Linked DNA regions of Homo sapiens: region 1 is linked to region 2. A link means that fine-mapping ties the variant in region 2 to the expression of a gene that starts in the linked region. Tissue or cell type: whole blood. Region 2 holds a variant in brackets; the other region holds the start of a gene. All regions are shown on one strand. Distances are between the middles of the regions.

Region 1 (8,107 bases), 110 kb before region 2:
TCAAGACCAGCCTGGGCAACATAGCAAAATGCCATCTGTACAAAAAATACAAAAATTAGCTGGGCATGGTGGGTTGGCACACGCCTGTAATCCCAGCTACTCGGGAAGCTGAGGCAGGAGAATCACTTGAACCTGGGAGGTGGAGGTTGCAGTGAGCTGAGATTGTGCCACTGCACTACACCCTGGGTAACAGAGCAAGACAGTCTCAAAAAAATAAAAAATGAAAAAATAAAGAACTAGCTGGGCATGGCGGGGGAGGAGAGAGAAGGAGGTGTACAGCATTGCAGAGAGATTAAAGAGTTTGGGGATTTGGCATATGAGATGCTCTGGGACAGTTGGAATGTGGCAAAGATTTGAGAGTGCAGAAGGGGATGTGAGAAGTGTTTCTAGCTTATTCATCAGTCTCTTTAAAGTTCCTACAGAGATACAAATAAAGAATAGCTTTCTTTTTAATATTTCTTTTCTTTTTTGTTGTTGTTGTTCGAGACGGAGTCTTGCTCTGTTGCCCAGGTAGAGTGCAATGGCAAAATCTTGGCTCACTGCAACCTCTGCCTCCTGGGTTCAAGTGATTCTCCTGCCTCAGCCTCCTGAGTAGTTGGGACTACAGGCGTGCACCACTACACCCGGCTTATTTTTGTATTTTTAGTAGAGATGGGGTTTCACTGTGTTGGCCAGGCTGGTCTTGAACTCCTGACCTAGTGATCTGCCTGCCTTGGCCTCCCAAATTGCTGGGATTACAGGCATAGGCCACTGAGCCCAGCCTTAATATTTATTTTCTAATTACTTTTTTGTTGCCAGACTATGCTTCTTTATAAGAAGTTCAATGCAGAAATGGAACTAGGAGTTGTCCCAGAATTTTTTAGGCTTGCCCATATAACAAATATTCAGAATTTTGTGTGCATGTGCCATGGATTTCTATAGAAAATTTGCAAAATATATATATAGAGAGGGAGGGATTTTATTTCTTACCCCATGACCAACTTCTCATTTTTGAGACTTCCTTTTCCTCCCCTCACTCAAAGGAATGGAATTTCTGCCAATGATGCCTTTTCATTATACAAACATCTGTTGACTCTGCTGTGTGACAAGCAAATGTGGACCTAACCTTAATGGACCCAAATGCTAATGGGTGAGATGCACATCTAACAAAACCTGAAAATAATGGCTTTAGTGCTGAAATGGAAGTAGAGGCAAGGCACCAGTCATACTCACAGAAAAGGAAGCACCTGCCTAGTTTCCACGGCCAGGGAAGGCTTCTGAGAAAAGCTGAGTCCTAAAGGATAAGTAGGGGTTTACTAGCAGGCAAAATAGAGGAAGGGATAGGGCATTTCTGGCAACAGAAATAGCATGTGCCAAGATGCAGGGAGAAAGCAGCACAGTCCCATCAGGAACCTGTTGTGAAGGTTGTAGGATATAAGGCTGCGACAGGCCCTAAGGTGAGAATGTGGACAGGTGACATCACAGAAGGCTTTGTATGCCATGCAGAGGAATTAAGGCATATATCCTGTAAGCAACCTGGAGGGGAAGATACTGAAGAATTATAGTAGGAAAGTGACTTGATCAACTCTCCATCTCAGCAATGTACTTCTGATGGGGATGGCTTCGAAGAGAGACTGGAGGTAGGAGGACAAAGTAGAAAGTATTGTAATTGCACAGAAAAAACCAAAGCATTTGTAAAATAAGACAGTGGCAAGAGGAAGAGAGAGGAGGGGTTTGGGCAAGGAGATAGTTTGGTGGTGAGAAGGAAAGGAAGAGGAACTTTAAATCAGATTGGGATAACAAAGATAAAAGGTTTTGGGATTATTCTTATATTCCTGATGTGGGCAACTGGTTTGTATTCCTCATTAAATGAAATGGAGAATATAGAAAGAGGAACAGGCTTTGGATGAAGGTATAGTACATAATTTGGGGATTATTAAACATAACTCCAAGGAACATCCAGCTAGAAAGCTCAATAACATAGGAGAGACATCAGGCCAAAATTATGTCCTCCTCATTACCCAACCTCCGCTACCAGTAGATGTAAGAAATACAAGGTATTAATGCCTGCAAATAGGCCATGCATGAATGTTAGAGTATTTTACAGACTTTGTTTTACCCAGTGATAAAATGTACTGGGATAGGCTCATGGTTAGCAATTGATGCATAAACTATTAATGGCGAGATGTCATTTTCCTAAGAAATTAACACTTTGCAAACTTGGTATGCAAACTTGTGTTAAGAGCTCTAAACTGGATTAATCTATCCTGGCCAAGCTATACCCCCACACTTTACTTTTCTCTCCTGAAAAAGAGGCTATTAGGACCAGTTGAAAAGCAATGAGGTATTAATGAAAGAGAGGTCTTAAAATCTAGTTTTTAGCTTTGTATAGAGTTTTGTTGGCACCTCCCAACACTGGCGATTAACCTACTGTGAGTTTTATAAGGGCCAGAGATGGAAGAACTAATTAAAAGGCAGCAGGCAAAATTCCTAGAGATTTTATTGTTTGAAAGAGGTTTTCCTATATAGGCTTAAGTATAAATACCAACCTATATAGGCTTAAATATAAATACCAACCATCGGAGGATGGTTGAGAGAGAGTTAGAAACAAAAAGACACAAAAAATTACTGTACTTGAATCTAGAGTTTATGCCAGAACCTACTTGTCTAAAATTAACCATAGTCTTGTTTCCAACCATTAATAACATGCTTCTCATTTTTCTTAGACTTGGCATCATGCATATTTAAATTTACATTTAAAAGTTCCTGGTAACCTTTGGCACAAGGGTTCCTGGTTTGGAGATAACTCACATGTTGGTGGATTCATGCCCAATCCCTCTCACTACTGCATTTCTATCTGCTGGTGGATCAAAGCTAGTTGCTCATTTTCAATCTTAAATCAATCCATTTTGTAATTTTCAGGTGTGAGTGAGTTGACATCAGGGTCCTTTTTGATGAAAGATTTCCTTGAAAAAATAAGCAAACTGTTCAAATCAAAACAAAGGGTGTTTTGGGACTGTCTCAGAACATTTCATAGAAATTAAATTCTGTACCTTCTAGGTTAACGTGCTGTGGTCCTCACGATGTGTTTGGAAGGCTCAACTGGAGAGTTATTCTCCATCAGTCCTAGATTTCTAACATTTCCTGTTAGTTTACTTGCTGGAGGATTAAGGCAAAACTGGATTAAAAAGGAGGAGTTGGGGAATTAACTGTTTCCTGGCAAGATTAGCTTTCCAGGCACTGATTCCTGAGAAGAGGTGTTTTTTGTTGTTGTTGTTTTTGTTTTTAACTCCATAATGTTGCCTGGACACTAGAACAGGATTCCCCTTCCCCCATCTCATGTTTAATCTGTAGCTTCCCCAAAGTACCTTGTGTTAGTACTAGGGGGAGAATGACTCACACGTTGAATAAATTGTTATTAAAGCATCTGGGCTCAATTGTGAACATACTAATAGTGAGGAATTGGAAAACCAAGTACTGGTGAGGGTTCGGCTGCTGACTGGCGAAATCACTTGCTGAATGTGAGGCCCAACATCCTCTAAAAATAATAAGAGTTAATATGTGCCGAATACGTCCTATATCCCCAGAACTATTATTAGCACCTTGTATACCATCTCATTTAATCCTCATATTTCCAATGTAGAGCATGACTATCATCAACTATGTTTTGCAGATGAGGAAACTGAGGCACATAGATGTTAAATAATTTGCCCAAGTTCATACAGTCATTAATGGCAATTTGGATTGAAATTCTGGCAGACAGAGACAGCTTGCAGGCTCTACCCTGGTGGGTTCTACGATATTACCTCCTAAGATGAAGGGAAGGGACTGGAGGATCATGAGGGTCCTTCAGCCCTACTAGTGTGTGTGGAATGGGGAGAGGAGTATTCAGTTTCTCTGTTGGGAATGTGCAGCATTCAGCACCACCTCATTCCTTCCCATCTATGAGAATCTTTTGGGAATAGTCCTCACTATTAGGCCTATAGGTAGCATTGCCAACTTGGTTTAGTTCCCGTGCCCCATAAGAATACTTATCAGGGCCATTCTTTTCTGAGCATGTGGGTTAAGTAAGATCTCAGTGGTAGTGGGACCTTGGAGAAATGAAGCCTCTGAAATGTTGGCCACAGAGAAAAATGCTGCAGTGAGAAGCTGCAAGCTGCAAGCTGCAAGCTCCCAGCTAGCTGGCTTGATGGGGACCACAGTAAATCAGGAGGAACAGTGGAGGCTGGTGTGGGATCTCGGGGGCCAGAACCTGGCCAGGGGATGTTGACCCAAAAAAAAACAGCAGCAGCAGTAGAAACAACAACAGCAAGAACAACAATAGCAACAAGCCAGGTTCAGGCTAAAAAAGCAGGCAGTGTGCCAGGAAGGGGGCCGACTGAGCAGTGTGTGGAAGCTGTCGTGGAGGTGACCGTGGGGGGATGAGAAAAGGGGAAGGAAGGAACAGACAGCACCAGAGGGACTTGAACAAAGGGAGAAGGGGGATTAAAGTCAAATCACTGTCAGCAGCCCAGGAGCAGACAAAACCACCAGAGTAAGCCCTGAAATGGAAATGAGAGGGAAAAGAAGCAAGCCGCTAACAGCTACCAAGAAGAGGAGGAAGTGGGAGATGCGCTGCTTCCTGTAGAAAGAACGTTGATTGAAGACAAAGCTGGGTGGGGACTAGTCCCTGGGCTGCAGCCGCTGCTACACATACTCACAACGCTGCCGCCGCGCTCCGTGGGCAACTCCTACTACTGCTGGGCTGGGCTGGGCTGGGCTGGGCTGCGCCGGAGCTCGCCTGCACAGATCAGCTCCGGAGAGGGGAAAACCACGCTCCTCGGACCAAGCCTCGGGAGCTAAGGTAAATGAAACGTTTTCCATGTTGCTCGTTTTTAATTGAGAAAAACGACCGTCGCTTGTGGTTTTAAGGTCCGATTTCTAAGGGATGATAGAGACATCGCTTCAGGACTAGGGGAAATGATTAGATTCTTTTGGAAGGGTCTTTGAGAATAACCACATTTATGACACATTTGATTTAAAAAAACCTCATCATCAGTGCTTAGATTTGATGACTAAACAGGCCAACATGCTAAATACAAGAAGCTGTTTGTATAGTTCTCTCGGAGGAAAACCAGGGCTGAGTCGAAATCCATCTGGGGCTGTGAAGCTGTGGTCTGGTCATCGGAGCCCGGCAGTCCCCTTGTTTTAGGGGAGTGAGTGGTGTAAAATATTAATTGCATTCTCTTTCTTACACATTGCACTGGGATATCTTCTGTTTTGCAAAAATAATGGCTGTGATTTGGCTTTTGGGGGAGTTAAATTCTTTTGTACTTAGATTTTGCCAACAAAGGCTTGAATTGCGTATGTGAGGGGCAGTATTTACCATTAAAAAACAGTGTCTTCCTCCCTCAGCTTGTGCAGCTGCTTTCAGGATAACCTCAGACACAGCTATCATTTGCCAGTAGGTCTTATCCTAAAGTTGCATCCTTGTTCAAAGGAGCGTGGCGGGTTTAAGGCCAGTAACTTGTCCAGAATCAGATACTAGCATATGCATGGATTTTATGTTTATATGCATTTTATTCACCTCTAGGTCAAGGTGCATGTTAGCCTCGGTGAGGGACAAAATAAAAAAGTGCAGCTGGGTTGTTTCCTTACGCGAATATCTGGTAGATAGACTGAAGTAGTAAAACCAGAACATGATTTTTATTCTTTGATTTTCTTGAGCAAAGGATGTTCTTAATGAGAGCCTGGGTCTATGACTTGTTCATATTTATGAATGATATGTAAAAGTACACTAAATAGGTCTAGCAGATGAGAACTGAGATTGTGAGATTCCTCTGACAGGATATATTAGGGAGTTTAATACCCTCATGCAGCACGATTTAAAGAATTAAGCTTTTTTAATCTTCAACAGAAAGTACAGTTAAGCAGTAAGTAGTCATTGATAAAAGGGTTTTTCTTCTAGAGTTTCTATAATGAAAGGAGATAATTTTTCAAAAGAAAGAGAAAAAACTGCTTATAGTGGAGTAAAAATTTAAAAAAAGTCAATATTTTGACACTCACAGATTCTTGAAACATAGGTTCTTAGATACCAAATATGCTAGTTGAGAGTGTATGTATGTATATGCCTCCTCCTTTATCATCGTTCTCACTTGTTAAGAGCTATAGGGCTATTTTTAATGCTATCTTTATGAAATCGATATGGCTTCTCAAAATCTGTGGAGTAGCAGCACATTTTGAGAGATGGGAAGCTTTTATAGCTACTAAAGAAAAAAAAAGTCTATTTCTCAGAGGTTTTTTGCTCATTAAAGTAAACCTGCACCATGCCTAAGAGACAAAGTACTGCTAGTATTGAAACCATGGAACTCCTTGAAGGATTCACTGAATTTAATCAAACTTGTGGGCAAAACAAGTCGTGACATGGATTTTGCAGTTCCACTTCCTATTTGCATCTTAAAGGGAAGTATGTAAAGATCATCTTCTTAGAGAAGAGACCTAGGATAGATCTTCGATCCAGAATGACCCAGTGGAGTTCTAGAATCAAGCTGTGCATCATGAAATGAAGTAAAAAGTTGGCAACCTGAGCTGCATGGATAAGGACAGGCTTACCCTTTGGTACTTACTCCTCTGCAGGCTGTATTCACTAGATAATGCCAACACCCTACTTTGTTTGGGGAGGCACAGACAATCTGCATTAGTCTTCTGTGTGTGTTTCACACATGAGTAAGAAAATGAAACCTTGCCCGACGGGCATAGTAGAGTCAAGAGGGCCTTGCTATCTTTCTGAAAACAACTAAGAGGTGCCTATTTTCTGCACAGCACAAAACATTTCTTAATCGTTAAATTCCAGCTTGAAGCAGAACATTAGTGAGTAACAGCAGATCAGTAACTATGATGGTAGAATGTTTAGGAAAAAGATGAATATGCTTCTACATTGTAAAATGAAACTATTTCCACTTATTCTGGCCATATGGAATATTGAAAGACTTAATGATTTTTCCTGGGGTATTCACTGGCTTTTGAGGAGTAGACCAACACAGAAATTTTAATTGTGCTTTTTTTTTTTTTTTCTGCCATATGGCCAATGGCTGAATGGAAACATGACTCCATTATTTCATTGCCAGCCTTGGGCCTCATATGGTGGACATGTAGTGAATGTGTTTGTTTGACTGACTTTGTTTAGCCTGCTTCAGAAAGCAGGCCCAACTTTTAAGTCTAAAAGCTGTATAGTCAAAGTAGAAAGCCTGTTCATAAAAGACTTCTGTGGGTAGGAGAAAACACTGTGGAGTGAAAAGAACGCAGGCTTTGGAGCCAGGCAGATCTGCCTTTGAAACCTATTACTGGTTCTTACTACTTACCTTGGTACATTAACTTAGGAACCTCAGTTTCCTCATTGTAAAGAAGGGCTAGTAATACATAATCAAAGTTGTTGTTTTGCTTTGTTTTTGCTTTTGTGTGCGGATAAGTGAGTGATTTCTACATAGAAGGTACTGAAATGTTATTTTTTTCTTCCTTGGTGGCATAAGGAAAAGTTAGCATATTCTTGGTCTTTACCACTGCCTCACAGGTTTAGGGAGACTTTTTTTATAGTGATAAAATATACATAACATAACATTTCCCATTTTAACTATTTTTTTAAGTATGCAGTTCTGTGGTAGCGAGTACATTGATGTGCTGTCATCACCACCGTCCATCCATAGAACTGTCTTTATCTTGCAAAACTGAAATTCTATACCCATTAATCAATACCTCCTCTTTCCCTCCTTCTCTCAGCTCCTGGAAACCCCCATTTTACTTCTGTCTCTATGAATGTGACCAAGTATCCCATATATGTGAAGTCATACAATATTTGTCCTTTTGTGACTGGCTTAATACACTTAGCATAATGTCTTTAAGATTCATCAATGTTGTAGCATGTGCTAGAATTTCCTTCCTGTTTAAGCTGAATAATATTCCATTGAATGTATAGACTATACTTTGTTTATTCTCTTTTGATGGACACTCGGGCCATGTTTTGGCTATTGTAAATAATACTGCTATGAACACGGGTGTACAAATATCTGTTAGAGTCCCTGCTTTTACTTCTTTTGGGAACCCAGAAGTGAAAATGATGGAACACAGTAATTATATATTTAATTTTTGAAGA
Region 2 (8,107 bases):
GATGGAATTACAATTTCTAGGGAGCATTTTAAGGAAAATGTTTTGGCTTTTTCATAATTTTATGTCTTACAGTATGGAATTATAATACGAAAATCTTTATATGAGTTTTGGCTTCTTGGTATTTGTACTTATTCAGGGGAAAAAGTCTTTCGATTACTTATGCCTCTATAGAGCTTAATTTCTTGAGAAATTCAACAGTCATTTTCACCAGCATAATTTTATCTTAAGGAATAACTAATAGGAAAAGTCAGCTTAATTATTTAAGGCCCTAGTTTCTACATATAATATATTCGATAGAAATGAAAATCTGCCGTGGAATTAACTAATAAGTAGTAACAATAAACTTCATATTTAGAATGCAAAGTCTATAAAGAATAATTTTACATGATCCTCAATATCAACTCCAGTTTAAAAAGTGTTATTTTTAAAACATTTGAAACCAAGTACTGTTTAATTTCAATCAGAAGATGCAAATACATACTTTGATCTATGTTTGATTTTGCTAATAATATTTGAAGGAGATTGCCTACCAAGGACAAAACAATAAATTTAAAAATCAAACGATTTCTCCATACGCTCATAGTCACATATGGAATTTTGAGAAAATAAAGCATGCTGTCTTTAGGAATTTTTATACTTCTTTGTCTTTCTTCCTTAATATTTGCTTCTAGCTGCTCTTGGCAATGATGAATTGTTATGTATGCATTAATGTTTTGCAGCCCAAAAGTTGTTCACATTTTTCCTATATAAGATCTGTGGAGTGTGTGTTTCAAAGAGAGAACTACAGAAATGTTAAAGCAGGAAAACCTGAATGTGATGTGCACATTTTCATCCCACATGGACAATGTATGTGTTTTAATAAATGGAATTTTCAGATTCATTTCATATGCAGTCAATTTCATTGTGACGGCCACTGATTCTGTGGTCAATTTGAGAAGGATCTGATGGTATGAATGGATGAGGAAATAGGAATCCATTGATTTTCTTTAGGATTTTGTTAATAGAGATGTCCGAAAGAAGAAAAAACTCACTTGACACTCTAAAAGCATTTCTTACTAGGTCTGTACATCTTGGGTACAGCCTTTGGGGACAGAGAAAGGTGGGGGCTGTGAGGAGAGCCCAGGGCTCTGATAGGGTGGAGTATGCAGACAGAGGAGCTGTATTTACACTTTCACTTGCTGCAGGTATGCCACAGTGGGCTTTTTCCCTTATGAAAAATAAAGACTGAACAACAGAAGTGCTGTTCTCTGTAGCTATCTGTGATTTAAAAGGAGTACAGGAGAAGCTAAGTCCTTAGAACTCTAGATGCAGCTGCTCCTTGGAGATCTTCTTAGTCGAGAAAGACTTCTGAATGTTCCTCAGATTATGCCAGTAACAGACCCTGTTAGTAAAGAAGGAAACACTGGATCTCCTGGGACTTGTGCCAGCAACAGCAGCATCTTTAAACCACGGATGAAGGGGGCCACTTGGAGTTTGCACACTAGTGCTCCACTGACATCAGTGTTTCTCAGACTGTGGTCCATGGACCACTTGCTCCAGGAGTATTAATACCTGGAATGCCTCTTTACAAAGCGGATCCTGAGCTACCCACGAACTCAGAATCCCTGGCAGTGACTCAAGAACGTGCATTCTGTTACATGCTATAGTCTGAGGACCACTACAGTATTTATGACAGCTAGCTTTTCATACTGCCAAAGGAAAGGCACAAACAACTCATAAATATTCTCGCTCTTCTTCCCACAGCCCCCAGAAGTGGCTGCCTAGGCATGAACATGTAACTGAAGGGTGAGAATCTAGCCAGCAACTAGACATGCTACACTGAGGAAGACGCAGCTGGGCTGTGACTCTGCTCCTGTTTTGTTGAGCCCCTGTGGGAGGACTGCCTCCAGTTCTCATTCTTTAATAAGCTGGTCACATTGTAGATGGCACTTAGAATGACAGAGGGAATTGGAGCTGGGTCAGCTCCAATCCACAAATTGCAAATAATTTGCCAAGGGAAATCCCTTTCCCTTCGGTTCTGCCCCAAATCTACATTTTCTTCTATTTAGAACCAGGAGACTCAGGCAGAATTTATTTTAATGAAGAAGGCCATGGGCTCCTGGGCCTTTCCTCAGCAAGAACTACTGCTGTTTCTCTCTGGAAGTCATAAGAAAAGCCGGGAGCCGGGTATTGCATCTCCACAATGAAGCAACAGAAAGACGGGGCCTGGGGAGCTCAGTCCACACTGTGCTCGAGCATTAGCATGCACTAGAGAACCAGAACTAGGCTCCAGCGCTCCCATGCGACCTTGGGCAAGTCCTTTGACCTCTCCTGCTTTAAAGTGGGTACAAGAATGCCTGATTCATTTATCTCACAAAATGGTTAAAAACAAATGAAAGAGGATGGGCACAGTGCTCACGCCTATAATCCCAGCGCTTTGGAAGGCTGAGGCAGGTGGATCACTTGAGGTCAGAAGTTCAGCCTGGCCAACACGGTGAAACCCTGTCTCTACTAAAAATACAAAAATTAGCCAAGTGTGGTGGTGGGCACCTGTAATCCCAGCTACTTGGAAGGCTGAGGCGTGAGAATTGCTTGAATCGGGGAAGCAGAGGTTGTAGTGAGCCAAGATCACGCCACTGCACTCCAGCCTGGGTGACAGAGCGTGATTCCATCTCAAAAAAAAAAAAAAAAGAAAAGAAAAATGAAAGAGGTAAAGGGGCATCACGAAGGCAGAGGTGGTAAAGAACCATTAGAAACTACTTGACGGCAACCTTCGAAGAAAGGAAACCGCTAGATAGCTCCTGCTCACCTCTTAACTCACCTCCTTTCTCTCTAGCCCCCAAATGCCCTGGTTGAGACCCTCAGTGTCTCATGTCTGAATTCCCATCACACCAGCTGGTATGGGCATTCTGATGCTCATCTCCTCCCACTTTCACCCAGTTGACCCTGAGTATTCATTAGTCAGGACTTCTTTGATTGCAAGTGACAGAAACCTAATGCCCCAAAATAGGTCCCACTTCAAGCCCAGCTGGATCCAGATGCTTAGAGGATGTCATGGAATGTCCCTGTCATCCCTTGGCTAGGCTATTCTCTGTGCTGGTTTAATTCTCAGACTCTTGCCCCGCAGCATCAAGATGGTGTCAGCAGGCCCAGGTTTATATCTCAACAGTTTAGTAATCAAGGAAGAAAGATAACAACAGCTCTAGCAGAAGCCTCTGGCTATATCCCTGGAACCCTTCCTAAGACACTATTGGCTAGATCTGGTTCCTGTGCTCGCCCACCCCTGGACCTAGGGATAGAGGTAGAGTCACTGGGCCATGTGGGCAGAACAGTGGTTCTAAGGAAATTGAAGTCCTTTTGCTACAGGAGGCAGGATTGAAAGTTAAAGGCAAAAAACAACTGATGCCAACCACATCTTAACAGATTTATTGATGTTACCTCATCTTTCACCATGTTCAGAAACCCAAGGTTCTCTGGTTCATGGTGCTCTTTGTCAACCACATCATGTCCAATCTCAACTACCTGGCTCTCAAGGCCCTTGAGAGGCCCCACTTGGCTAATCCCATCTTGCCATCCAAACCCTCTTTTCCAGTTCATCCTGTCTCCTTCAGTGTGCTGTGAGTTCATCCCACTTCCCTGTCTGCTGCTTTTTACATTTTTTTTAGACAGAGTCTCGCTCTGTTGCCCAGGTTGGAGAGCAGTGACGTGATCTCAGCTCACTGCAACCTCCACTTCTCGGATTCAAGTGATTCTCCTGCATCAGCCTCCCAAGTAGCTGGGATTACAGGCACCCACCACTATGCCTGGCTAGTCTCCCCTTTTGCTTCTGATGTTACCCCCTCTGGAATGTCATTACACAACTCCTTGAGTAACTAAACTTGCTTTTCTGTCAAGGTTTAGCTTGAATTCCACGAGGTCTATGAATGACTTCAGGAAATATGAACCTTTCTCCTCTCTCCACTCCTGTTGCCCTTGCTGTCAGTATTGTTGAGTATTTGACTGTGTTTGAGGCGTTGTGCTAGGGTAGAAGGCATGGCACCTGCCTTCCGGAGCTTGCGGTTTAATGGAGAAAATAGACAAGTGAATAGTCAGTTACCAAAGTGGTCAATTCTAGGACACAGAAGCTAAAGGGAGGGTAGAAGTGATGACCAGCCAGAGGAGGTGATGCTGGAGTTAATCATACTTAAATGATAATCTTTTTTTTTTTTTTTTGAGGCAGAGTTTCACTCTTGTTGCCCAGGCTGGAGTGCAGTGGCACAATCTCAGTTCACTGCAACCTCTGCCTCCCGGGTTCAAGGGATTCTCCTGCCTCAGACTCCTGAGTAGCTGGGATTATAGGTGCCTGCCA[C/G]CACGCCTGGCTAATTTTTGTATTTTTGGTAGAGATAGGGTTTCACCATGTTGGCCAGGCTGGTCTCGAACTCCTGACCTCAGGTGATCCGCCCGCCTCGGCCTCCCAAAATGCTGGGATTACAGTCATTAGCCACTGCGTCCGTCCAAGAATCTTGTCTCTAGGGTAGTGTAACCTTTAGGAAGTAGACAACACTAGGTGGATGGGCTTCTCTTTAATCTTTCCCTCATTGTAGGGCAGCTGAGAATGAAGCTCTCCCCTGCAAAGGGGTGGGCGATTGGCTCTGCACACAAAACAATGGGCCAAAGCTGAGTGGAGGTCGTCACCTCTCCCCCTCCAACCTCTACTGGCTCCGTGTCTTCACAACATCATGGGGACATTGTCTTCAGCCAGCAGCCCTTTGGCCTGGGTGATACCACCATGCACCAACCTGGAAGTCAGATCTCGTGGGCTTCAGGCCCAGGGGCTGCAGGAAATACATTGCTGGCTGTATCACCTTAATTTTAGCCCCAGGGGAAGGGGCCCTTCCACTATCTACTGGGAACACTATCTCTAATTGCCCTTCCCTGTGTGTGCATTTGGCGATTTACATTTAGATATAAATTAACTACAACTTTCAATAAAATTAAAAATTTGGTTCCTCAGCTGAACCAGCCATGTTTTAAGTGCCCAAAGCCACATGCAGCTAATGGCTATTGTCTTTGGACAGCACAGATATAGAGAACAGTTCCATCACCGTGGAAGGTTCTATTAGACAGCGCTGCTCTAGCATAATGGCAACCTTTTTTCCATCACAAACAACTGACTGAATATGCCTTCTCCTTGAGCCCAAATTTTGACAAAACATCAAAAAGAGGGTGAGAAAGTAAAAGTAGTGTAATGACCCCTAATAATCACAACAATTGGCCATTGGTCCTGGTAAATCATCATACAGGCTTTGGCATAGAAGAGATAGACTGCAGATTACATGTCATTCTTGGAACCCTCTAAGTCATATATTCACTCATCTCTCTCACTCATGAACATACAATGATAATAATCATAATGATCACATCAGCCGCAACAATAAAGTGAATGCTTACTTAGTACTTACCTTTGAGCAAGGCACAATGCTAGACATTTTATAGACAGCACTTCATCTAATTTTCACACTAACTCTAGGACACGGTCATTATTTATCTCCTGTAGCAGATAGCTTTGTGCCTCATGACACATCCACGATCCACTGCTGATTTCAGCCACAGCGGCAGTGGAGAGTTCTCTGCAAGCTCATTCTTCCCAGTGAAAATTGGTGCCCCTGGGGCAATCCTCAGCCAATGAGGGACGAGTCTGGAGAAAAGTCTCAGGCTCCCACCCTTTCAGAGGGACATCTCTGGATGCATTTTATATGATTTCTCTGAGCATCCCTAAGAGGATGCCCAGTCCTCAATCAGCCACAAGAGTAACCAGCCCAATAATATGCCATATTGTTTTTCTCACTTAAATCTGCCTCATTTTCTCTCTTCCTACATTGCTTCTTTCTGGGATCACCCTCAACACTACCTTTAATAAACTACCTGCATCCAGGTCCTTGACTCAGGCTCTGCTTTGCAGGGATCTCAAAGTAACTCACCCCTACTTTATAGATGAGGAATTTAGGGTTTAGAACGGTTGACATTTCTCTAAATTCCCATTACCATGAAGTGGCAGACCAAGGATATAAACCTAGGTTTGTCCCGATTCCAAAGATTTAATTCTTAACCATTATCTTATGGTGTAAATTGGAATGTAAGTACATAAAAGGGAGGTGATAATAAAAGCTCTGAGTCTGTTCTTATTTATAGAATAAGCGGATTATTTATAAACTTCAAATCTCTGAGTTACTTCTCTAAAAGGAAGAAATCAGTGAGCTCATGTCAATATTTACATTTTCTTCACAGTGGTCATTTGGTACCTAGAAAGTATCAGCAGTAGCTTCCAGGTTCATCTTGCACTGAAAATATTTCCTGGTATCAAGGAGCCTGTGCAAGGAAGAACAAGAAGAGTGATTCTAACAGGGAAGGCACAGAGTGTTTTTTTTTCTTCAGGACTTTCAGGAAGGAAAACTCTCTTCCTTTACTGACTACTCTTCCAATACCTGCTTTTCTGTCATCTTAGAGCCCAGTGACCCTCCAAGGGTCAGAAGCAGGGTCATCTGAGTAAGAGTAGAAGCTTCCAGAGACTTCACTCTCCAAGCCGTGATTTGAGAAAAGGATCAAGAACGAATTCTAGGACAAAGGCCCTTGCAAATGCAGTTTCAGGGACTCACTCAGAGCTTCTTTGGGAAAAAAGAATGGAGCTTATCTCCTTCCCCCACCGTCAATCTACTTCCTGTTCCTACTCCAGGGATATACGATGTCCCACTCAAGCTTGTAACACAGAATCCCAGCACAGATCAACAGATGCTGCTACACATGCACACACTTGCGTATGTGTGCGCCCAAGGAAAGGCTGTTCCGGAATGCTTAGGAAAGCCAATTGTCACTCTAAGAAGGGACCAGCATGATGTACTGGCATGCCCATCATAAAAAAATCACTACTCCCACCTCTAGGTTGTCTTGGTTTACTTTATAACAGCAGTTCTCAAAGAGTGTTCCAGTAACTCTTGAGGGGACTTGAGCCGCTTTCAGGGAATCTGCAAGGTCAAAACTATTTTCATAATATTATTATGATGTTATTTGCCTTTTTTACTTGCCTTCTTTCATGAACATAATTGGATATTTTAGAGGCTACATATTGACGTCACAACAAATTGAATGCAAATGCACATACAAGAATCTGTCTTCTCTTAAGCCAGACAATAAAGCAATTTGCAGAAATGTAAAACAATGCCACTGTTCCCACTGTATATTTTCTTGTTTTGAAAAATATAGTTATTTGTCATAAGAATATGTTATTTATGTTACCATGTAATGGGCTTGTTATTGTTATTTTCAATGAATTAATACATTTTTTTTTGAGATGGAGTCTTGCTCTGTTGCCCAGGCTGGAGTGCAGTGGCATGATCTCAGCTCAATGCAACCTCTGCCTCCCGGGTTCAAGCAATTCTGCCTTAGCCTCCTGAATAACTGGGATTACAGGCACAGGCCACCATGCCCAGCTTATTTTGAATTTTTTTAGTAGAGACAGGGTTTCGCCATGTTGGCCAGGCTGGTCTCGAACTCCTGACCTTGTGATCCACCCACCCCAGCTTCCCAAAGTGCTGGGATTACAGGCGTGAGCCACCATGCCCAGCCTCATAAATACATATTTTTTAAATTTTCTCAGTTTTAATTCTAATATGGCAAATAACAAGAGCTACAACCCACATAAGCCAAAGCCCTGATAATTTTAGGAGGTCCTCAATAATTTTCAAAAGTGTAGAAGTCCCTAGACCATGAAGTTTGAGAACTGCTGTCTTATAGAATGCCTTTGAGTTCCACTCCCTACTTTCCAGATGGGAAAGTTGAAGTGCCATTCAAAATTATATAGAAATGTAGTGGCAGAGTCATGAGTAGACCGTAAATGGAAAGAGGAGATGATTCAAAAAGGCAGCATAGAAGTGTTTTAGGTCATTCCCTAGGACCACGTTCGAATGTTTTCTAGGAAAACGTTCCTGAATTCAATTTCATAATTAAACAGCATATTGAAAGACAATTTTCCACAAAAACAAAAGCGAAATCATGACTCTCACATAGGTATTAAATGAACACGTCAAAGATTTTCTCTAACTCATTATTAATAAGGAAACAAGGCAGATGTTACCAGTGGCCAAAGCAAAAA

What was found. PIP is the estimated chance that this variant, and not a neighbour inherited with it, causes the effect.
Region 1: it holds the start of GNG2, and the variant in region 2 is fine-mapped to the expression of GNG2 in whole blood (TOPMed, PIP above 0.99). The same link has a PIP of 0.9 or more in blood mononuclear cells and lung.

Annotation. Positions count from the first base shown.
Region 1 is chr14:51,855,969-51,864,075 of GRCh38, forward strand. GNG2 (G protein subunit gamma 2) reads left to right here and starts at 4,644. Exons shown (of 4, transcript NM_053064.5): 1 at 4,644-4,822. RefSeq lists a silencer at 4,131-4,210 and enhancers at 4,263-4,764, 4,551-4,760.
Region 2 is chr14:51,968,916-51,977,022 of GRCh38, forward strand. GNG2 (G protein subunit gamma 2) reads left to right here. Exons shown (of 4, transcript NM_053064.5): 4 at 1-880. Among named protein-coding and RNA genes, the nearest start is that of RTRAF, 17 kb to the right of the region's middle. The variant C/G (reference allele first, on the strand shown) is at 4,328.